2 separate regions of the Homo sapiens genome follow, and region 2 is linked to region 1. The links come from fine-mapping of genetic effects on gene expression. Tissue or cell type: whole blood. Region 1 holds a variant in brackets; the other region holds the start of a gene. All regions are shown on one strand. Distances are between the middles of the regions.

Region 1 (12,039 bases):
GGCTTGTTGGTGGACCTGACAAATACTTCAAGGTTCTATGACCGAAATGACATAGAAAAAGAAGGAATCAAATATATAAAACTTCAGTGTAAAGGGTAAGTTATATATTAAGATTCTTTAATATTGAAACCTTTCATCACAATTTGTAATCTCTTTTTTCAAAAAAACTTTTTCTATATTACTAGACATGGTGAGTGCCCTACCACTGAGAATACTGAGACCTTTATTCGTCTGTGTGAGCGGTTTAATGAAAGAAATCCACCTGAACTTATAGGTATGTTTGGCTTTACTTTGCCACTGTTGAATATTTTATTTTGCAGTTAGGTTTCTGTTTTCTTGTTTGCAAATAAGTTGATATGAAAGTTTTTTCTGTTTTAAATAATGACCAAGTAGTGTTTATTAAAATGAGAGATTGACTTGTGAATTATGTAATAAATGTATTTTCATAATTTTTACATTTTTCTAGATAAAGCCCTGATTTCCTCTCTTCAGGTGTCCTGTTGGGAAAGTCTATCCTAAACACTACATATTTATTTTTTATACTTCTACATTTTATAATTTTACATTTTATACTATATTATTCTGAAACTTCATTCTTTTTTATTCAGGATTTCTGAGAGCAATGTATGGTGATGTAATTGTAGTTCATTTTTGCTTCTATATAGTATTCCATTATACAAATACACCACAGTTTATACTCTTGTTGATGCACAATTCCTTCATCAGATTTTTATTGATTGCTACTCTATCTATACCAGGCACCAGCTCGTGGAACACATCAGTGAACAAAATAGAAAAAAACATCCTGCTCTTACAGAGCTCATATTCTAGTGTGGGCTGGAGGCTGAGGGAAGGAGGGCAGGCAATAACAAATTTAATAAGTAAATTTTCATAAAATGGCAGTTACTGAAAATGACTTTTGAGTTATTTTCAGGTTTGTTGTTGTTGTTGTTTTGCTTTTATAAACAATGCTGCTAGGAGTGGTCTTCTAGAATTTTTAAGGTTTGGTTTTAAATTTAATTTTTTTTTAATGAAAAATTATTTTTTGAGACAAAGTCTTGCTGTATCGCCCGGGCCGGAGTGCAGTGCTGCGATCTTGGCTCACTGCAGCCTTGAACTCCTGGGCTCAAGTGATCCTCTCTTCTCAGCTTCCTGAGTAGCTGGGATTACAGGCACACACCACTACCCCCAGCTATTTATTTTTATTTTTATTTTTTGTAGAGACAGGGTCTCACTATGTTGCCCAGGCTTGGTTTGAACTGCTGGTGTCAAGTGATCCTCTTGCCACGGCCTCTCAAAATGCTGAGATTACAGGCATGAGCCACTGTGCCTGGCCAACTTTGCTTTTCTGTTATTTCTGTTGGTATATGGTTTAAATTGAGGATGCAATGTAAAGTTTCCTTTTCTTTCTTTTTTTTTTTTTTTGAGATGGAATCCCACTCTGTTGCCCAGGCTGGAGTGCAGTGGAGTGATCTCGGCTCACTGCAACCTCTGCCTCCCAGGTTCAAGCGATTCTCCCACCTCAGCCCCCTGAGTAGCTGGGATTACAGGCATGCACTACCACACCCTGCTAATTTTTGTATTTTTTTTTTTTTTGAGATGGAGTTTTGCTCTTGTTCCCCTGGCTGGAGTGCAATGGCACACTGTCAGCTCACTGCAACCTCTGCCTCCTGGGTTCAAGCAATTCTCCTGCCTCAGCCTCCTGAGTAGCTGGGATTACAGGCATGTGCCACCATGCCCGGCTAATTATGTATTTTTAGTAGAGACAGGGTTTCTCCATGTTGGTCAGGATGGTCTTGAACTCCCAACCTCAGGTGATCTGCCCGCCTCAGCCTCCCAAAGTGCTGGGATTACAGGTGTGAGCCACCGTGCCGGGCTTAATTTTTGTATTTTTAGTAGAGATGGGGTTTCACCATATTGACTGGGCTGGTCTTGGACTCCTGGCCTCGGGTGATCTGCCTGCCTACCTCGGCCTCCCAAAGTGCTGGGATTACAGGCGTGAACCACCATGCCTGCCCAATTAAATGTTTTCTACATAACCAACCATTTGTTTCAGCACAGTTTATTGAGTAGTTCTTTCTCTTCTTAGGGCTAGATGATGTAAATTCATATATCTACTGTTTGAAAATATTTCCTATTCATCTCATTTTAATTTTTTGGTAATATTTTAAAACTTTTTTTCATCAAATTTTTTTGTGTCTTGTTTGATTTTAAGTAGCTAATGTTTTTCCTTATTTAGATAATTAACGGAAAAACTAGTAGTAAGAAAATTTGGGGATATATTGAGAACGTAAGATAAAAAAGAAAACATCAGCAACTTTCCTGGAAACAAGCAATAATTAGTTAGAAAATATAATCAGAAAATAGTCCCATTAATCTTAACAATATTGGCTATCACATATTGAACATTTCCTCCCTGCTAGTCTTTGTGTAAACCATGTCACACACATTGTCTCATTTTCTTTTCATAGCAATTATATTAGGTAGATAGTATTGTTATGCCCTTAAACTGAGACTTGGAAAAGTTAAGACTGCTGAAGGGTCACTCACACAGCCAGTAAGGGCTAGAGTGTGGATTATATCCTAAGCAATCTGAGTTGCATGTTCACACTTGAAACTACCTCTCTCTTCTATAACAGAAGTACAAAACACCAAGGAATTTTTACTAATAAATGTAGATGGTCTTTATGAAGAAAATATATTTAAATATTAAAATAAACATGAAGAAATGGAGAGACGTTACTTGTTTCCACATTAATTTCAAAGTTTTAATGTTGTTCTAACCAAAATCCCAATGAAAGTTAGGCAGAATTACTTTGAAATTAATTTGTAAAATCCCCACCTCTATTAAGTCACTGAATATTACCGAGCACAGAAAAAAATAGTTTGGCAAATCAGACATGCAAGTTATGAGCAAGAAAAATTTGAAAAACAAGAGTAATGAGGAGATTTTTCTTTCCAGTCATTAAATCATATGGTAAAGCAATGGAACTGATAGCACTAGTTCCTGGTGGTAAAGGAGATGTTTTTAAATTAGAGAGGAAAGGTGTGATTTTTCACCAAATGGTGTTCCATTAGTCAACCACATAATAAGTGAATTTTAGGTGTATTAAATATTTTTAAAAGGACCAAAAAGAATATAGGAGAAAATAGTAAATATTTATTTAATTCTGGAGTAAACAAAGAAGGATATTCCATGTATATCACCAAAGACAGAATCCATAAATGAGTATTTTTCTTTTAGGAGTGCTCCTGGACTGCCTGTATCAGAACCACTTGAAGATACTTGTTAGAAATGTATGTTTTAGGGCCTATCCTGGACCTACGTAATCAAAATGTCTAAGGATGAATGTTAGGAATCCAGATTTTTTTTTAAGAGACAGGGTCTTGCTATGTTGCCCACTTGGAGTGCAGTGTCTATTTATAGGCATGATTATAGCACACTACAGCCTCGAACTCCTGTCCTCAATTGATCCTCCTGCCTTGGCCTCCTGAGTTGCTGGGACTACGTGCACCACTGCACTTTTGCCAGGAATCTAGATTTTCAAAAGAAAAGTATTAGGTGGCTTTTATGCAGACTTAAATTTGAGAACTGCTGTCAGAATTTAAAGTATGGTGGCTATTAATGATGATAGTAACAGCTAGTTGTTTTTTTTTTTTTTTTATGAGGTAAGGTCTTGCCGTATTGCCCAGGCTAGAGTGCAGTGGTGTGACTTCGGCTCACTGCAACCTCTGTCTGCAGGGCTCAAGTGATCCTCCCACCTCAGCCTCCCGAGTAGCTGGGACCATAGGCGTGCGCACCACCACACCCTGCTAATTTTTGTATTTTTTGTAGAGACACTGTTTCACCATGTTGCCTAGGCTGGTCTTGAACTCCTGGGTTCAAGTGATCTACCCACCTTGGCCTCCCAAAGTGCTGGGATTACAGGCGTGAACCCTTATTTATTAATAAGCTAGTATTAATAAATGCTTATTATTTGTTCAGTGGACTTGGGGAACTATAGATAAGGAAAGTGAGTCTCAGAGAAGTTAAGTACTTCGCCCATGGTCATGCATCTAATAAGTAGTTGAGCCAGGTTTTTTCTTTTTTTTTCTTGTCACTGCTATACTAACAAGGATAAGCCAGGTTTTTAATCCAGTTTCTGGCTTTAAAGTTGAAATCTGTAATTAGTTGCTGTAATTAGTTTCTAGTTGGCCACATAAAAGAGAAAAATTTTTGTCTTAAAAAAAAACACAACAGGTGGGTATAGTGGCTCACCATTGTTATCTCAGCACTTTGGGAGGCTAAGATGGGAGGATCACTTGAAGCCAGGGGTTTGAGACCATCCTGAGTAACAAAGTGAGACCCTGTCTCTGTAAATAAAAAAATTAGCCAAGTGCAGCAGTGTACTCCTGTAGTCCCAGCTACTTAAGAGGCTGAAGTGGGAGGACTGCTTGAGCCCAGGAGTTTGAGGCTATAGTGAGGTATGATCACACCTGCACTCCAGCTTGGGCAATAGAGTGAGAATCTGTCTCTAAAAAAAAAAAAAAATTGGAGAGGAGAATGTTTGAGGGCAAAGAAAAAAATAAAACATAAAACAACAACAACAAAAGACACAACAGAAGGGAGGCAAAAAGATGTTGGACAAATTGGGGTCTGGCTTGGTGGCACATGCCTGTAATCCCAGCTACTTGAGAGGCTGAGGCAGAAGGATTGCTTGAGCCCAGGAGTTTGACACTGGTCTGGGCAACATAGCAAGAATTCTGTCTCAAAAAAAGATTTTGACAAATTTGGAAAAATATCTGAAGCATATGTGACATAAAAAGTTAATAATCTTATTTATGAAGATATCTTATACACCAGTAAGTGAAAGAGGCATTCCTTAATAGAAAATTATGGAAAACAATGAAAGAGCAATTTACAGAATATGAAATACAAGAAGCCAAGAAACATGAAAAAAATTTTTCTCACTTGCTAATGAGATACAAATTAAAGTACATGCTGGTAGCTGCACTCCACATCAAATTGGCAAAGATTAAAAAAATTATATTTCTGAGAGCTCCTAGGGGACTTTGCCCTGCATTACCTGGGAGGGGTGTCAGTTCAGTTCTGGGTTGAACAAGGCCCTTGCACATGGCATGTTGGGGGACCAGCCTAAAGTTCTTGTCACCTCCTCATGCGAAGCCAGCCAGCACTATCCTGGATGGAGCCCCCCAGCATTGAGGTGGCCCTTGGCCACCCCTCCTCAGGGCCTCCAGGATAACTTGAGTACCCCTCCCGGTGGCTTCCCCTTCCTCTCCCTGGGGCTGCCAGGGGCACGTTGCTCTGTGCCATGGACTGAAACCAGCTCCTGGTGACAGAATGACCTGTTTGTTGGAAATGCCTTGTTGCCAGAGAAAGGAATCTTGGAACAAAACTATTTTAATTGTGAACTGGCCATAGAACACCTGTTTTTTTTTAAATCAACTTATTAAGTTGGAGCACTATAATAGCTCTTGCTGATTTAGCTACGATATGTTTGTTGAACACATAATGCTATGTTTTATGAGGAAAAGGGATCGTAAGGAAGAGTAATGTTGCACCTAACATTAGGTGGGTAAAAGTGGCCTTGTGTTTGTGTCTGTTTCTACACAGAGCCTTTGGGTTTTGTTCTCTTCATCAGGTAAATGTTTGTTGCATACCCTGCTGCACAGAGAACCTCCCTGCGTCTGTTTCTCTGCTCCTCTGTGGCTGACTCAATAAACTTTTCCTTCTTGGAAAAAAAAATTATAATGTCTGTTAGTGTCAAGGATTGGATAAAATGGGTGCATTCATACACTTTTGAGTGTTAATTGGTATAGTCTCTACAGAGGGCTATGTGGAGAGAGAACATGGTGGTATTTCTCAAGATCCTTAAAAGTGTTTCTCTTGACTCATCAAGACTACGAACTTATTTTAAGGAAGTAGTCAGA[G/A]ATGGACATAAAGAGTTATGTGAAAGGAATTTCACCACAGCTTCCCTTGGTAACAAAAAAACAACCTGGAAACAACAATCATCAATGGTCAGTAAAATCATTAAGTAAAATACAAAATGGAAAACTTTATAACAGAAGAAATGAGCAGCCACCACTTGAACCCACTTATGTTAGTACCACTAAAAGTGGGACAGCCAAACATTATGTGCTTGCTGATGTGGTATGAAAGAAAATACACAGTACCATCTATAAAATATTCTTACCTAAAGTCTTAAAAGTGAATCTAATTATGTCTCTGGATTTAACTATCAATTTACAAGACATATGGGAGATAAGAGAACAAGCTAATTGAAACCATGAGGATGCAATCAGATAAATCCAGAATGTGGAACATTTCATAGAACAGTGGCTAGGCTTTTCCATCATATTGATTGCATTTAAAAGAGCGAATCAGGGACACTTGAGATACCTAACAAAAAATGCAGTTTGTAGGTATTGTTGGATCCTGGTTTGAAACATTAACTTTATCCCAGTACTTTGGGAGGCCGAGGCGGGTGGATCACAAGGTCAGGAGATCAAGACCATCCTGACTAACATGGTGAAACCCTGTTTCTAATAAAAAAATACAAAAAATTAGCTGGGCGTGGTGGCGGACGCCTGTAGTCCCAGCTACTTGGGAGGCTGAGGCAGGAGAATAGCATGAACCCGGGAGGTGGAGCTTGCAGTGAGCCGAGATTGCGCCACTGCACTCCAGCCTGGGTGACAGAGCGAGACTCCATCTCAAAAAAAAAAATTTTTTTTTAAGGTAATTGAGGAAATCTAAAAACAAACTAGGTTCTAGATGACGTTAAGGAATTTATAACTCTTCTTTTGGTATAATTATTGCATGGTAATCATATGAAACCCAGAGTCCTTATTAGAGATGTGTATTGAAACATTTTTAGTGACATGACATGTCTGTGACTTGCTCTAAAATGTAGTTTAAGGTCATTAAAATGCTAATTACTCTGATTTGATCTTTATACATTGTAGACATGTATTGAAATATCACACTCTACCCCATAAATATGTATTTATATATTTATAATACAGTTATTATGTATAAATTAAAAATAATAGTAAGAGCTGGGCCCAGTGGCACATGCCTGTAGTCCCAGCTACTTGGGAGCTAAGGTGGAAAGACTGCTTGAGCCTGGGAGTTGAAGTCCAGCCTGGACAACATAGCCAGACCTGGTCTCTAAAAAATTATTTAATATAATAATAATAAAGGCAAAAAAAAAATTAATGTGGTTGTTCCTCAGACTCCTCAGGGGATTGGTTCTAGGATCCCCCTCAGATACCAAAATCCTCTGATGCTCAGTGCTCAAGTGCCTTGTATAAAATGGCATAGTATTTGCATATGACCTATGAACATCCTGCCGTTTTCTTTGAATCACCTCTAGGTATTACTTATAATACCTAATACAATGTAAGTTCTATGTGAACAGTTACTATATTGTATTTTTAAATTTGTATTATTTTTTACTGTATTTTTTATTGAGTTTTTTCCCAAATATTTTTAATACAGATATAGGAAGGCCAATTTACTCCAAAAATATTATTAAGGGTGGAGGATGAAAAAAAATCAGCAAAATGATAATTACCAAAGAGGGATGATGGATACATGAGGTTTCATTTTTCTATTCTCACTGCTTTGGGTATGTCTGCAAATTTCCATAATAAAAAAAAAATTTGAGAGTACTGCCCCAGAGAAGCTAACAGTATGGTAAAAATTGAAAACATCTGGTTCTAAGGGTTTCAGATAAGGGACTATGAAGCTGTAGTTACTGCTAAGGATTAGAAAAGGTTTCAAGCTTCTGTGTGTTTCAAGAACTTTATATTTCCATGAAGCCTACAGCATTAGCCCACAGCCTCACCAATTATCAACTGATAACTGAATCAGTTGTCAACTGTAATTGATAAATTAACAATTATATCAGCTAATTCAAAGATTACTTTTTTTTTTTTTAAAGACCAGGTCTCACTATGTCACCCAGGCTGGGATTTTTTTTTAAAACCAAGACAGCTTTGAAAAGAAACCTGAGTCTAACCTTTGCCACATCACAAATGTTTACTACTGGTCACAAATATTGATCAGCAAGAGTTTGTGCAAGGCTGATAAAAATTCCTTCTCTGAAACTAAAAATAAATGAAAGTACTATAAAAGCAGGACAGTATTTTCAGATCCTAAGACTACTTAAGCTTGATTCTTTAGTGCTTTTTATTTAGAAAGGTGTTATCAGCAATCAGTTCTGAGACTAGTTTCTGTTATTGTCTCTACAGTAATACTATAAGAAATAACTGGCAATACATCCTGTGCTCCAAAATTTGGCAGGCCCAAAGCAAATGTTTCCAATTCAATCCACATGAACAGAATCACTGCCGGGAATATAAAACAAAATATATATATATCACTAGGTTCTATAAATTTTATAACCTGTAAACACTCAAAACAATTAGAAGTTTTTCTTATCAGTTCTTCTAAGAATACAACTGCACAATTTATAACAAGGATGAATTTGTTTTCCTAAACCTGGAGTATGAATCTTTCTAAAATCATGACATCTAATGCCAGAGGTTAAAATTGCTTGACTGCCCTCCTTTGAATTCATTAAGCATATTTAATGTTTACCCCTATAATGGCTTCTCTCAAATGAGAAAACACTTCTGTGAGTTGTTTTTACTTATTCAGATAAAGGCCTCAGTATTACCTTAAGCTGTGTAGGTTCTAGTCATATACCTCAATATATGTGTATGTATGTGTGACTGTTATATATATTCATATAAATGTATGAATATATATACACACATCCTTAACATATTTCATGTATATCTCATAATATTGTTCTGTTAAATAATAGCTGCATACTGTACCATATAAATAACCTGCTTTTTTCAAAACAACAAATACAGTATAGTAACTGTTCACATAGCACTTACATTGCATTAGGTATTATAAGTAATACCTAGAGGTGATTCAAAGAAAACGGCAGGATGTTCATAGGTCATATGCAAATACTATGCCATTTTATACAAGGCACTTGAGCACTGAGCATCGGAGGATTTTGGTATCTGAGGGGGATCCCAGAACCAATCCCCTGAGGAGTCTGAGGAACAACTGCATTAATTTTTTTTGCCTTTATTGTATTATATTAAATAATTTTTTAGAGACCAGGTCTGGCTATGTTGTTCAGGCTGGACTTCAACTTCATCCCACAAATTGTAACAATTAAAATTGTCTCTAGACATTACAAAATGTCCCCTGGGGGGCAAAATCTTCCCCAGTTGAGAACTACTGAATCCTCGGTGCAGTGGCTCACGCCTGTAATCCCAACACTTTGGGAGGCCGAGGCGGGTGGATCACCTGAGGTCAGAGTTTGAGACCAGCCTGACCACCATGGTGAAACCCTGTCTCTACTAAAAATACAAAATTAGCCAGGCGTGGTGGCGCATGCCTGTAATCCCAGGTACTCAGGAGGCTGAGGTAGAGGTTGTAGTGAGCCGAGATTGCTCCATTGCACTCCAGCCTGGGCAAAAAGAACAAAACTCCGTCTCAAAAAAAAAAAAAAAAAAAAAAAAAAGAACTACTGACCTAATTAGACTGATCAAATAATTAGGATTTTTAGCATTAAAAAATTTATCTAGCTAGTGAGATAGAAATAAAATTGTGGGCCAGGTGTGGTGGCTCATGCCTACAATCCCAGAAGACCAAGGCCAAGGATCTCTTGAGCCCAGGAGTTCAAGACCAGCCTTGGCAACATAGAGAGACCCTGTCTATACCCCCCACACCCTCCAAAATAGTGTATGTTGAGATCAGGCTTTATTTAAAAAGATACATTGTCACCAGCCCCTTTATAAACTGCCCCAACATGTATAGCTATAGCTAATCTCTCTGTCTATTTGTTGGGGAGTTTCTTTCCCTAGTTTGATTGTAAATGCCATATACATTTATTTCATTATATTAGCTTGCCTGGAAAAATTTGAATAGAAGTTGCCTTGAAATAGTTAATTGTGAGCTAATATTTAGTTAAAAACTGTGGCTTACTTACCACTAGATGGACCCATTCTCATGATGAAGAAAACTGAAAATTGCTTTAAACAAAAACTGAAGACGTATCTAAGCTTGTAGTATACCTAATTAATGGATTTTTTAATATCAAATACATAATCTCCCACATTTTTCTATAGTGGTTTGTTTTGATGGTTTTGTAACTTTATAACCCTATCTATAAATGTTTTGATGTATAACTGAACCATTAGACTAAGACTTTTTGTATTTGCATATAAAGAATATTAAAAGGAAAATGGTACTTTCCTAGATTACATATCTTCACATGACATATTAGCTAATTGGCAATTATTATTACATTTCCTATTCATAAAAATATTTAATCTTGCAAGAGTAAAAATTGGATACAAAAACAGTAGCTTAGGTGAGAAACATCGAAAGTTGAAATATTTGTTGCTTGAATTGGTCTGAAATAGAAGATAGTAAGGAAATTTACATGTTGGGTTAAGATACATGAATACAAAAATGTGTTTATAGTGCACATCTTTGTGTGGCTTTTTTGAAGCACTTTTTCTTACAAAGCAATGGAGATAATGGAATTTATAGATTTTCTTGGTCATAGCTATTTATTTCTAAGTGATGTCTTCAGTTCAAGGCTGATCTCTTTGTTTTTTATTTTCTTCTTTCAGAAACTTAATTTCACTTATATCGTTTCTATTATTGTCAAGCTTTGTGGTTTAACTAGGTTCTTGTCCTGAGCCTGTAAACATACCTAAACTTGTTAAATAATCCCCTCCCGCTGAAAAAAACCCCGTACCCTTCTTTCTGTTTTGCATTCCCTCTTCCCTTTCTCAGCTGACTTTTTAAAAGAATCTATACTTGAATCCATTTTTTCCTATCCACTTTGTTGCAGTCTGGAGTCCTCCCTCAGCACTGTTTTTTGTTTGTTTGCTTTTTAAGACTGTGTCTCACTCAGTCATCCAGGCTGGAGTGCAGTGGTGCAATCATAGCTCACTGCATCCTCGACCTCCTGGTCTCGAGCAATCTTCCCACCTCAACCTCCCGAGTAGCTGGTACTACAGGCACTTGCCACCATGCCTGGCTATTTTTTAAATTTTATTTTTTGTAGAGACAGGGTCATACTGTGTTGTCCAGGCTGGTCTTGAACTCCTGGCCTCAAGTGATATTCCCGCCTCGGCCTCCTAAAGTGCAGGGATTACAGGCATGAGCCACTGCACCTGGCTAGCACTCTTAATCAAATAGTGATTTTCCATTCTAATCATTATGTGACATCTAAGCACTCATAACTTAGAAAATTTCCTTTACTTGGCATACATGACCCTGTGTTTTTGTTCTTTGAAGCCCATCATGGTTCATTCTCAGTCTTTTTTTTGAGATGGTGTCTCGCTCTGTCGCCCAGGCTAGAGTGCAGTGGCATGATCTCAGCTCACTGCAATCTCTGCCTCCTGGGCTCACGCGATTCTCCTGCCGCAGCCTCCCGAGTAGCTGGGATTACAGGCAACCGCCACCAACCCCAGTTAATTTTTCTATTTTTAGTAGAGATGAGGTTTCTCCATGTTGGCCAGGCTGATTTTGAACTCCTGGCCTCAAGTGATCCGCCACCCTCAGCCTCCCAAAGTGCTGGGGTGGGGATTACAGGCCAGAGCTATAATCAGCCGTGGGAGTGGTTTTTCTAAACTCTGATAATTTTATTGCCATGCTTAAAATTCTTTACTATATCTCCATTGCCTTTATAATCTTTAGTATGTTTCACAGGTTTTTTTAGGATTTTGACCCTTTCATTTTCTCCAACTGCATTTGGCATTTCTTACCACAGCTCATATTCTAGCCATTCTGATTTATTTATAGTTTGCCATATGTGCTTTTTTGATTAATATATTTACATTTGCACAGATTGTTCCTACTGTCTGCAGTTCCATTGTATAAATATCCTTTTTTATTGAGAGTTGTTCAATGACTAAGGTTTTTATTCTAAATATTAATGGTCATTTTATTATACCAGGAATGTAGAAATTGGTGATTTGGCTCAATTGATAGTT
Region 2 (12,039 bases), 41 kb before region 1:
TGGGTAGGGCAGAATAGAGCCATATTTTTCTTCTTGCAGAGAGCCTATAAACGGACAAGCAAGTAGGGAAGATATCGCTGAATTCTTTTCCTAGCAAGGAATATTAATAATTAAGAACCTGGGAAAGGAATACATTCCTGGTGGGAGAAGTCTATAAACAGCTGCTCTGGGAGTGTCTGTCTTATGCAGTTGAGATAAGGACTAAAATATGCCCTGGTCTCCTGCAGTACCCTCAGGCTTACTAGGATTGGGAAACCCTGCCCTGGTAAATTTGAGGTCAGACTGGTTCTCTGCTCTTGAATCCTGTTTTCTGTTGTTTAAGATATTTATCAAGACAATATGTGCACAGCTGAACATAGAACCTTATCAGGAGTTTTTGATTTTGCCCTTTGCCTTGTGGTCTTTGCTTTGCCCTTTGCCTCGTGATATTTATTGGCCTAGAAGCATATGATCTTTGTTCTCCTTTTTGCCCTTTGAAGCATGTGATCTTTGTGACCTACTCCCTGTTCATACACCCCCTCCCCTTTTGAAGTCCTTAATAAAAACCTGCTGGTTTTGCGGCTCAGGTGGGCATCATGGACCTACCGGTATGTGATGTCGCCCCTGGTGGCCCAGCTGTAAAATTCCTCTCTTTGTACTCTTTCTCTTTATTTCTCAGACTGGCCGACACTTAGGGAAAATAGAAAGCACCTTCATTGAAATACTGGGGGTGGGTTCCCCCGATACTCCAAATTTTGTTCACAGGAGTATACCTTACTCAATTATTAAAGGGTGTAAATAGTTCAAAGTAAGTTTCCTTGACTCTGAAAAATAAGGGTCAGCAATATTCTAAGCAAAAGTCAAAAAGATTGCTTCAGCTTTCTGAGTTCAGTCAATTTAGTTCTTGATTTGCTTGATATTCATGAACATTTCAGCTCTTTGTGAGTCTTGTACATTTTTCCTTTTGTTACAATCTCCAAAGTCATCAGAAATTGGTATTTGAGAGCACCTGTTAACGTTCTATAGCTCATTATAAATCATCTTTTGAAAAGGATTAAAACAAGACAACAATTGTCTGTGAATAACAAAATGTCCAGGGTAGTTACAGTTAGAAACACAATTGACAAAGAAGTTTGGTTATCTCAGACATTAGAATTTTAGAAATCCCATACAATTTTGGAACATATATTAGTATTATTCACAATAATATAACCTAAAGAAAACTGGGCCGGGTGCAGTGGCTCATGCCTGTAATCCCAGCACTTTGGGAGGCTGAGGAGGGTAGATCGCCTGAGGTCAGGAGTTCAAGACCAGCCTGGCCAAAATGGCAAAACTCTGTCTCTACTAAAATACAAAAAAATTAGCTGGGCATGGTGGTGGGTGCCTATAATCTCAGCTACTTGGGAGGCTGAGGCAGGAAAATCACTTGAACCTAGGAGGCGGAGGTTGCAGTAAGCTGAGATCGTGTCACTGCACTCCAGCCTGGTTACAGAGTGAGACTCTGTCTCAAAAAAAAAAAAAAAAAAAAAAGAAAAGAAAAAAAGAAAACTGAACATTATTTTGGCAATCCCACATACCTAAACATGTCAACTAATCCTGTTTACATTTCTCTTCTGGACACTCTAGGGTCCTTCTGGAGCCTCTGAAAAGCCAGGTGTCAGGAAAGACAATTTTGAAACTGAAGTTTGATTTTTGGGAAGCCTGTTAAATATGTTAGTGGTTTAAAACACTTGATGTTATGAAATAGAATTCCAGATTTCCATAAATTATTTATTTTGCCAAAATTACTCAGAAATTTTAAAGAAGCAAAAACTTTTTATAACCCTTTACAAATTTTGCTAAAGTGCAGATTAGTGCCTTAAGAAAACTTTGTTGTGCTTTTATTTCAATGCTCAATTTACTTTTGAATTTAGCCAATGTTCACACACAGCATTTCTTTTGCAAGATTAATTTTAACCTTCCAGAACTTGTTTAAACCTTTAGCTTTATCTTACCTAATTTAAAACAATTCCCTAACCCTAGGCAAAAATTTACATTTCCATGCCTTCCATTACCTTTTACTAAAAAACACATTTTACTGTTCTTACACACCTTGCATGTAAATCTATTTTCAGTAGTTTCAATTATACATTATAATGGTAACTCCTAGCAATTTTAACTTTAATGTAAAACCTGGTAAGTTGTTTTAATTGTGTGCCAGGTGCAGCGAAGTTTTGACTCCTTCTAGCATAATTAATGACATGGTTAGTTCCATATGTCCCCAGGCCTTATCAATTGTGAAGCCAGCAAGTCAGATAGTTCTCAAAACTCAAAAAGCAGTTTATAACATTAAAACATTTAGCAAGACTAGTACCTAACCTGCATAATTTAGTCCACCTATTTACATTTTGATGACATCTGTTTTTTACCAATAATCTTTAAGGCTGTTTTTATTTCTCAAAGATTAAAGTCACATGAACTGAAAGGTACCACATCTTTTACCTTCCCTTTAAAAAATATATGATCTAAGCACTTGTCTTCCTTTAGGCCAATTAGAGTTTTTTTTTTTTTTTTTTTTTTTTTTTGAGACAGAGTCTTGTTCTGTTGGCCAGGCTGGAGTGCAGTGGTACAATCTCAGCTCAATGCAACCTCTGCCTCCTGGGTTCAAGGGATTCTCCTGCCTCAGCCTCCCAAATAGCTGGGACTACAGGCACGTCACCACACCTGGCTAATTTTTGTATTTTTAGTAGAGACAGGGTTTCACCATGTTGGCCAAGCTGGTCTCAATCTCTTGACTCTCAAATGATCTGCCTGCCTTGGCCTCCCAAAGTGCTGGGATTACAGGCATGAGCCACCACACCTGGCCTTAGAGCTCCTTTTTTTTTTTTTTTTTTGAGATGGAGTTTTGCTCCTGCTGCCCACGCTGGAGTGCAATCTCCACCTCCCAGGTTTAAGTGATTCTCCTGCCTCAGCCTCCCAAGTAGCTGGGATTACAGGCATGTGCCACCATGCCTGGCTAATTCTGTATTTTTAGTAGAGATGGGGTTTCTCCAAGTTGGTCAGGCTGGTCTTGAACTCTCGACCTCAGGTGATCTGCCTGACTCAGCCTCCCAATGTGCTGGGATTACAGGTGTGAGCCACCGTGCCTGGCCTTTGAGCTCTTTTCATAGACATCATGTACACAACATATATATAGCTACACAGACAGGCAGAAGAAAACCAGTCCCCATAAGATCCTTTTTCACAACCAAACTTTAAGGAGAATATAAACAGGGATCCTTATCATTCCTAGCCTAGTGAAAAAGAAAAAAAACATCTGGTTTAAAAGTTAACTGTTGATGGGGTGAAGAAAAAAGGATGCCTGGGGGAATAAACCTTTTATTCTTAGGCAAATGGTTCCTCTACCAGGGAGAGAAGCTTATCAGATGGAGTTGAGCCTTGGCCAGGGAAGGGGAAGATGCTGTGGACATGTGGCATTCCCCAGCCCCAGCTGGGAGGGGAGAGGGAATGAGGAGCTGCGACTTGCCTATCCTTCCCAAAAAACGAAGGCAAAGGCCATGGAAAGGCCCCTGACCCCAGGGAGCGATGGGAGTGGGGGCATGGTTTCCCTACCCTCAGAAGTCCACGCATGAAAAGGCTTAGAAATGACAGTGAAAAGTTTTGAGTCCCCGTGTCACTCAACCGCTTCTCAAGCCCCACATTGGGTGCCAAAGCTGTTGTACGACTTTCTCCTTAGTTCAGCTAAGAGCTGGGTCCTGGTCACATGGCCATGAAATATTAGGCTCACAGATGCCTTGAAGGGTGAGAATGGAATTTATTGGGCAAAAAGAAAAAAAGGGAAACAGAGACTCTCCCCAAAGCCAGAGTGCTTCCTGCCTGGTAGACTGAATCCCAGGTTCCACCTAGGAAAAGGAGGGGCCAGGCTCCTCCCCACTGCAAATGGCGCAAATTTCCCAAGGCTCCACCACAGGGTGCATTCCTCCCAGTGCTCAGGTCAAAAGGAGATTCTGCCAAGGAATCCTTCCCACCTGGCTGTCTTACCAGCACTTTGGGAGGCTGAGGTGGGAGGGCTGCTTGCAGGAGTTCCAGACGAAAAAAGTATAAAAAAGTTAGTGGGGTGTGGGGGCCTGCACCTGTAGTCCCAGCTCCTTGGGGGCTGAGGTGAGAGGATTGCTTGAGCTTGGGAGGTTGAGGCTCCAGTAAGGCTGCCCTGATCATGCCCACTGCACTCTAGCCTGGGTGAGAAAGTGAGACCCTGTCTGCAAAAACAAAAGATTTATCTACATATCAAAGTGAAGAGGAAGGATTAATAAATATAGGTTTTTCTCAAGGAAAAGTCCTAGGAAAAGGGAAGACAGATAAGATCTCTCTCTTTTGCCAAAAGAGAACGTTCAATCTTATTTTTTACATGTACACACTCTTCCTTATGGGCAAAATGGATGTTTGATGAAAGACTCACCAATGAAGAGAATCTACATCTGATAAAGAGGAGATCAAGACATATCTGGGAGGGTGTCAGGGGTTCCAGGAAGCGGGGGAGGAATCATGTTGGTCTGTCTGTGAGCATCTATTTTTCTTCTCACAGAGTAGTAGAAACTTGGGACTAGGAGCAATATAGGCAGAAACACACATCAGGCAAGGCATTCCTGACAGGCAGAGAGAAACTGCCTGCTCATCGGGATGCCACTCTCCTACTCTACTCTCTATTGTGGACAAAAGGTAGCCACAGGGTCCTCCCAATTCTGTGGCAATGAGTATGGAGAGGGCATAACTGGATAGCAGAATAAAAATCCAGTGCACATTGCTGCCTTACAGCCAATAACAGTTGCTCGCCAGTGGTATGAAGCTTCTGTGTGCCTAGGACTGAGCTACTGGGTATAGCGTGTGTGGGAAGGGGAGTCACCAAGGGGAGTCATCCCCAGAAGGGGAAGGTAAGATACTCTTCCAGGATCAGGCTCACCTTTCCCATCCTTGGAGGGGGTCTGGGGATGGAAGGTTTTTACCACTTTGGGCATGGTACACACTCTATCAGCAGAAAAGGGAATTCATCGGAGATTATTTGGGTAGACTGATGGCCTTAAAGGAAACTGGGTATTATCTTGTTCTGTCAGGGGAGGAGTTTACACCTTCACTAACAGTTCTGAGCAGATGCAACAGCAGGACAGACCAGAAGTGTGACCTAACTCAGGCTGCCTCAGAGAGATTGCTGTTGGACTGCCTCTATTGATGGGACTCTTACTGAGGGGGTCCAGGCATTCAGGGGGTTGAGCGTCCCAGAAAGTTCCCCACCGACGCTTTAAAAATGTATTCCCTGCAGCCTTACGTTCTTGCAGTTCCAATATAGCATTGGTGTTTAAAGCCAAACTACATTATAATTGATTCGCCATCATCCAGCTTTATATTTAACACTTTAATCTGGTAACAAAGGAAAGGCTCGTTAAAGGACGGCATTTATAAAAATTTTTCAAGCACCTCTGCTTAACTCGAAGGGAAAATAAAAGGCACTGTTTATTTGGTAGGCCAAGGAGAACAACGCCACGAAGAGGTTCTCCACTGATCAATTCCTACCTTTGTCAATTATACCACATTAATTAGTAACTTTTTTTGGAGACATGGACCCTCTCAAACTCCCCAGTATGCTTTGAAACTTTGATCCAGAAATGTACAAACAAAACTCTAAGTGTTCTGGAATTAATTTCAGAAGCTTCATAGATCCTCGTAAGTACTCACCAAAAGAAAAATTCCCCATTTCTGGTACTCCAATCTCATGTCCTTAGAATTCTCCTAAGACTTGTTCCCTTGAACAACTTTCCCTAATTGCAAATCAAACCTAGATCCGGCTGGGACGCCAAGCTTGAGCTGTGGTAACGCTCAGAAGGCCTCTTTTCATCAGTAAAATAGATGCCTTAACGGAAGTGGCGGGCAATCTACGCATGGAAAGGCGCTTGGCTTCCCTCTTTTTTGGGTTTCTCTAGGTTGTCTGGATGGGAAAAAAATACACGCTTCGTCCTGCGGAGTTCGGTACGAGGGCAATTGCACATGCGCAAAGGCGAACCAGTAGCGTCCGGGCGCGTCCGTGGAGCGGGACGGGGCGGGGCGGGGCGGTGCCGAGTGGGGCGAGAGAAGGCCCGCTCCTCCCATTCGTCGCGTCCTTAACTCTTTGCTATCCTTCCGCTGAGCTTCCTCTTCTTTCCCTCTGACCTCGGAAAGGGGGCGGGGCTTTCGGGGGCGGAAGTTGCGGTGCATTGTGGGTTCTCCTGGAGCTGTGGAGTTGATCCTGAATGAAAGTGGCGCGCCGCCCCTGACGTTACCCGGATCGGAGAGGTTGGAATTCAGATTACGGCTGCGATTCGGGTGTCTCGGACCCCGGTGTGCACCGGACCACGGGGAGGCGGCTCCAAAGGCGCGGTGAACGTTGGTGAGGGAGGGCAGCTCTGCGCAGCCCCAAGACATGGCTCACAACAAGATCCCGCCGCGGTGGCTGAACTGTCCCCGGCGCGGCCAGCCGGTGGCAGGTAACCTGGACTGGGGGGCGTTCGAATCCCCACACTCCAACGTGCCCGGGGGTGGGCCGACTGAGGAGCTCAGCTTTTGGTGGTTCTGTGCCCATTAGTGGTATTTCAGGAGCGGGATATGCTCCGTCGGATTACGCTTCGTGGATGAATGGGAACATGAACGGGAGGGGATGGTCGGCGGATGGGGGGCACTTGTTACTATTCCTGCAAGGCTAACTGTGCGAATGTGAAGGTAGACAGGAGGTTGGTGGCAGGAGGTGAGGATCCAGGAATACAGTGGGCGTACTTTGAGTCTTAGTAGTTTGCGAACCTGTTAGGGTTCAACCTTCCCCTCGAAAGAAGGGATGAATATCAGTATTGAGATGGAGGAGGGTTAAGGAGGGAAGGGGCGGTTCCCAGCGGTGAAATGGGGTCACATTGAGACTGGGAATCTGGAGGGTGTTTTTGTTAGTTTTTTATTTTTATTTTCTTGTGAGACAGGGTCTCTTGCTCGGGCTGGGGATCCTCCCACCTCAGCCTCCCAAGTAGCTGGGACTACATGCTCCTGCCACCGCACCCGGCTAATTTTTTTATTTATTAAAGTATATATATATTTATAATGTATATATTTGAGACATAGTCTCTCTCTGTCGTCCAGGCTGGAGTGCAGTGGCGTGATCTCGGCTCACTGCCTCAGCCTCCCAAGTAGCTGGGATTACAGGCGCGTGCCACCACACCCGGCTAATTTTTGTTTTTAGTAGAGACAGGGTTTCATCGTGTTGACCAGGCTGGTCTCCAACGCCTGGCCTCAAGTGATCCGCCCGCCTCGGCCTCCCAAAGTGCTGGGATTACAGCCGTGAGCCACTGTGCCTGGCCATAATTTTTTTGTTTATTTTTTGTGGAGACAGGGTTTCACTGTGTTGCCCAGGCTGGTCTTGAACTCGTGGACTCAAGCGATGCTCCCACTTCGGCCTCCCAAAGTGTTGGGATTATAGGCGAGAGCCACCCCGCTTGGCCGGGTTTTTGTTTTTTTTAATTATTTTTCTTGTAGTTTTTTTCATCTTTATTGAGCTTGAATACAATAAGCTTTAAAGCGTACAGTTTGATAAATTTTGACTGTATATACACAAATATATCTCTTTCCTAGGAAACAACCATGAAACCCCTCAAAGTTTCCTCTTGCCCCTTTTTAAATCCCTCCTTCGCCTGGCAGCCACTGATCTGCTTTCTGTAATTATAGATTGGTTTGCATTTTCTAGAAATTTTTAAATAAATGGAAACATATAGTGAGTACTCTTCTTGGGGTGGAAGGAAGTGTGTGTGGCTTTTTTCACTCAGCATAATTAATTTGATACTCATCCAGATTATGCATGTATCAATAGTTTATTCCTTTTTTATTGCAGAGTAGTAGTTTATTGTTCTGGGTATACCACAATTTGTTTACCTGTTCATCTATTGATGGTCATTTGGGTTATTTCCAGTTTTTAGCTATTACAAATAAACCTGCTGTGAACATTCATGTACAATTCTTTGTGTGGACATATACTTTCATTTCTCTTGTGTAAGTCTCTAGGAGAGGAATGGCTGCATCATATGGTAGGTGTATGTTTTAAGAATTTTAAGAAACTGCCAACCTCTTTTCCAAAGTGGTAACACTTGATAGTCCCACCATCAATGTATTATACAGAAGAAATTCAAAGGACTTAAAAACTAGCAAAAAATTTGGACACTTCACAAAATAAGTTATATGAATAGCCAAAAAGCTATGATGGCGTGGTGGTATGTGCCTGTAATCCCAGCTACTCGGGAGGCCGAGGCAGGGGAATCACTTGAACCCAGGAGACGGAGGTTGCAGTGAGCTGAGATTGCACCACTGCACTCCAGCATGGGTGACAGAGTGAGACTCCATCTCAAAAAAAAAAAAAAGTAATTTGTACTTATCGTGTAATTTATTAGTAAGGGTTCTCTAGAGGGACAGAACTAATAGGAAATATATGTACATATATATATATACACACACACACATACATACACACACACACATACAGACGTAAAGGGGAGTTTATTAACTGTTAACTCACACGATCACAAGGTCCCACAATAGGTTGTCAGCAAACTGAGGAGCAAGGAGAGTCAGTCTGAGTCCCAAAATGGAAGAACTTGGAATCCAGTGTTTGAGGGCAGGAAGCGTCCACCACAGGACAAAGATGTAGGCTGGGAGGCTAAGCCGGTCAAGTCTTTTCACATTTTTCTGCCTGCTTTATATTCTAGCCATGCTGGCAGCTGATTAGATGGTGCCCACCCAGATTAAGGGTGGGTTTGCTTTTCCCAGCCCACTGATTCAAATGTTAATCTCCTTTGCAACACCCTCTACACCCAGGATCAATATTTTGCATCCTTCAATCCAATCGAGTTGACACTCAGTATTAACCATCACAGTAATTTCTTTGATATTTTGCATATTGAGGAAAATGTTATGGCTGCTCAAACTTATATGTTGTAAATGTTAGGATTCACTTTACTAGTACTAGAAGTTCATAATTTTCCTGAATCAGAAAGAAAATGGTACTAACTACATATAATTTGTTTCTCTGTGAAGTCACTTTCTCTGATGAAACCAGACTTGCAATGAGAGAGAGCTCTTGGAGACAGGGCCAAGCTTTATTTTCTGAAGAACTGTTTTTTCCTCCTTCTGAGTTAATAGATTTCAGGTGAATACTTGGAAGAAAACAAACTTATAATTTCTTTTCCTTTTTCCTTTTTTTCTTTTCTTTTCTTTTCTTTTTTGTATTTTTAGTAGAGATGGGGTTTCACCATGTTGGCCAGGCTGGTCTCCAACTGCTGACCTCGGGTGATCCGCCTGCCTTGGCCTCCCAAAGTGTTGGCATTACAGGTGTGAGCTACCGCACCCAGCCCTCCCTAGTTTCTTAAAGATATATCATTCAACATAAAATTATTTCATATCTGCTATGTAAAGAGCTTACTAGGAACTGTGGGAATGTAAATATGAGACACAGCCAGGTGCATTGGCACATACTTGTGGTCCCAGGTACTCAGGATAGTGTGATGGTGATAGTGATGGTGATTTTGAAGTCATTTTATTTAGCAAATATTTAAATGTCTACTTTGTGCTAGTCCTGGGTGCTAGGGAGATGGCTAAGATATATTACCCTTAAAAAGCAGAGTCTCATGGGAGTAGCAAACCATCCATTTTAAGCACAGTTCTGTTGTAAAAAATGTAGCAATGACTCTATTGTGGTATATGATGGGAATCAGAGGTAATAAACCTAATTCTTTGAGGTTGAGGAAGAAGAGATGGGAAGGAAGAAGGAGATCAGGTGAGACTTCCCAGAGAAGGTCATACATGAATTATCTTCAGTAAATAGAAGTTTTCTAGATAAATAGTTGGCAGGGGGTGTTATTGAAAGTTTCTGTTAGGATAGGATGATGATGGGAGAGATAATAGACTGAAAAAGTGTCTTTGTTCTGGAAGATGTAAGTGAGGTTAAGAGGTTGGAGAATAGCCTGATCATACAGGCAAGTAGGGTGTGATAAGGTATCCTAATATTTATATGCTTTAAATTTTCAGTGGCATACAATTGCAGTTTTTTTTTTCAGCATCGAGATGAGATTATTTGAATCCAAGTTAAAAGCTTACTTTGACTTTTCTGTGTTTAATGAATTGATGGAGAAAAGAGTGGAAATGGAGAGACTAATTAGGAACTTGTTGTAGTCCAGGTGAAAGACAATAGTGATAGTTTAAAAGTGACAGATGAAGAGTAGAAGGCTAATTTGAGAGATATTAAGAAGGGAAAATGGACAGAACTTGATGTCGTATTTAGAATGAGGGAAAGAGGGTCAAAATTTAGTCTCAAATGTCTGGCTTATGCACATGAGATAGTTGATATTATTAGGGCTTACTGAGAGAGAAGCAGGTTGGAGGAGATATTAAGATCCTGATTGCTCAAATAGAGATCTTTAGTAAAGATCTTTTTAAAAAACATTTTTATGTTATTTCAGTAGTTTTTGGGGGACAGGTGGTTTTTGGTTACATGGATAAGTACTTCAGTGATGATTTCTGAGATTTTGGTGCACCTGTCACTCAAGGAGTGTACACTGTAGTAGTCTTTTATCCCTCATCCCCCCTCTCCACACTTCCCCCTGAGTACCCAAAGTCCATTATATCATTGTTATGTCTTTGCATTCTCATAGCTTAGCTCCCACTTACAAGTGAGAACACAGGATATTTGGGTTTCCATTCCTGAGTTACTTCACTTAGAATGATGGGGTCCAACTCCATCTAGGTTGCCATGAATGCCATTATTTCATTCCTTTTTATGGCTGAGTAGTATTCCATGGTATATATACATATCACATTTTCTTTATCCACTCATTGGTTCTTGGGCATTTAAGCTGGTTCCACATTTTTGCAATTGCAAATTGTGCTGCTGTAAACATGCCTGTGCAAGTGGCTTTTTCAGATAATGACTTATTTTCTTCTGGGTAGATACCCAGTAGTGGGATTGCTGGATCAAATGGTAGTTCTTCTAGTTCTTCAAGGAATCACCATACTGTTTTCCCTAGTGGTTGTAATAATTTACATTCCCACCAGCAGTGTAAAAGTGTTACCTTTTCCCCACATTCATGCCAACATCTAATATTTTTTGATATTTTAATTATGGCCATTCTTGCAGGAGTAAGGTGGTATCTCATTGTAGTTTTAATTTGCATTTCCTTGATAGTGATGTTGAACATTTTTCATATGCTTCTTGGCCAACTGTATATCTTCTTTTGTCTGTTCATGTCCTTTGTCCACTTTTTGATGGGATTATTTGTTTTTTTCTTGCTCATTTGTTTCAGTTCCTTGTAGATTCTGGATATTAGTTCTTTGTCAGATGCATAGTTTGCGAAGATTTTCTCCCACTCTGTGGGTTGTCTGTTTACTCTGCTGATTATTTCTTTTGCTGTGCAGAAGCTTTTTAGTTTAATTAGGTTCCATCTATTTATTTTTGTTTTTGTTGCATTTGCTTTTGGGTTCTTGGTCACGAACTCTGCCTAAGTCAATGTCTAGAAGAGTTTTTTCCAATGTTATCTTCTAGAATTTTTATGGTTTCAGATCTTACTTAAGTTTGAGTTGATCCATCTCCAGTTGACTTTGTATAAGGTGAGAGATGAGTTTCATTCTTCTACGCGTAGCTTGTTAGTTATCCCAGGACCATTTGTTGAATAGGGTGTCCTTTCCCCACTTTATGCTTTTGTTTGCTTTGTCAAAGATCAGTTGGCTGTAAGTGTTTGGCTTTCTTTCTGGGTTCTCTATTCTGTTCCATGGGTCTGTGTGCCTATTTTTATACCAGTACTATGCTGTTTTGGTTACTATAGTCTTGTAGTATAATTTGAAGTTGGGTAATGTGATGCCTTTACATTTGTTCTTTTTTGTTTGCTTACCTTGGCTATTTGGGCTCTTTTTTGGTTCAATGAATTTTAGGATTGCTTTTTCTGGTTCTGTGAAGAATGATGATGGTACTTTGATGGGAATTGCATTGAATCTAAAGATTGCTTTTGGCAGTATGATCATTTTCATAGTATT

What was found.
Region 2: it holds the start of RNGTT, and the variant in region 1 is fine-mapped to the expression of RNGTT in whole blood (TOPMed, PIP 0.97).

Annotation. Positions count from the first base shown.
Region 1 is chr6:88,917,220-88,929,258 of GRCh38, reverse strand. RNGTT (RNA guanylyltransferase and 5'-phosphatase) reads left to right here. Exons shown (of 16, transcript NM_003800.5): 3 at 1-95; 4 at 186-274. Among named protein-coding and RNA genes, the nearest start is that of RNGTT, 40 kb to the left of the region's middle. The variant G/A (reference allele first, on the strand shown) is at 5,932.
Region 2 is chr6:88,957,780-88,969,818 of GRCh38, reverse strand. RNGTT (RNA guanylyltransferase and 5'-phosphatase) reads left to right here and starts at 6,201. Exons shown (of 16, transcript NM_003800.5): 1 at 6,201-6,473. The coding sequence starts at 6,410. RefSeq lists a silencer at 5,904-6,138 and enhancers at 6,122-6,501, 6,856-7,782.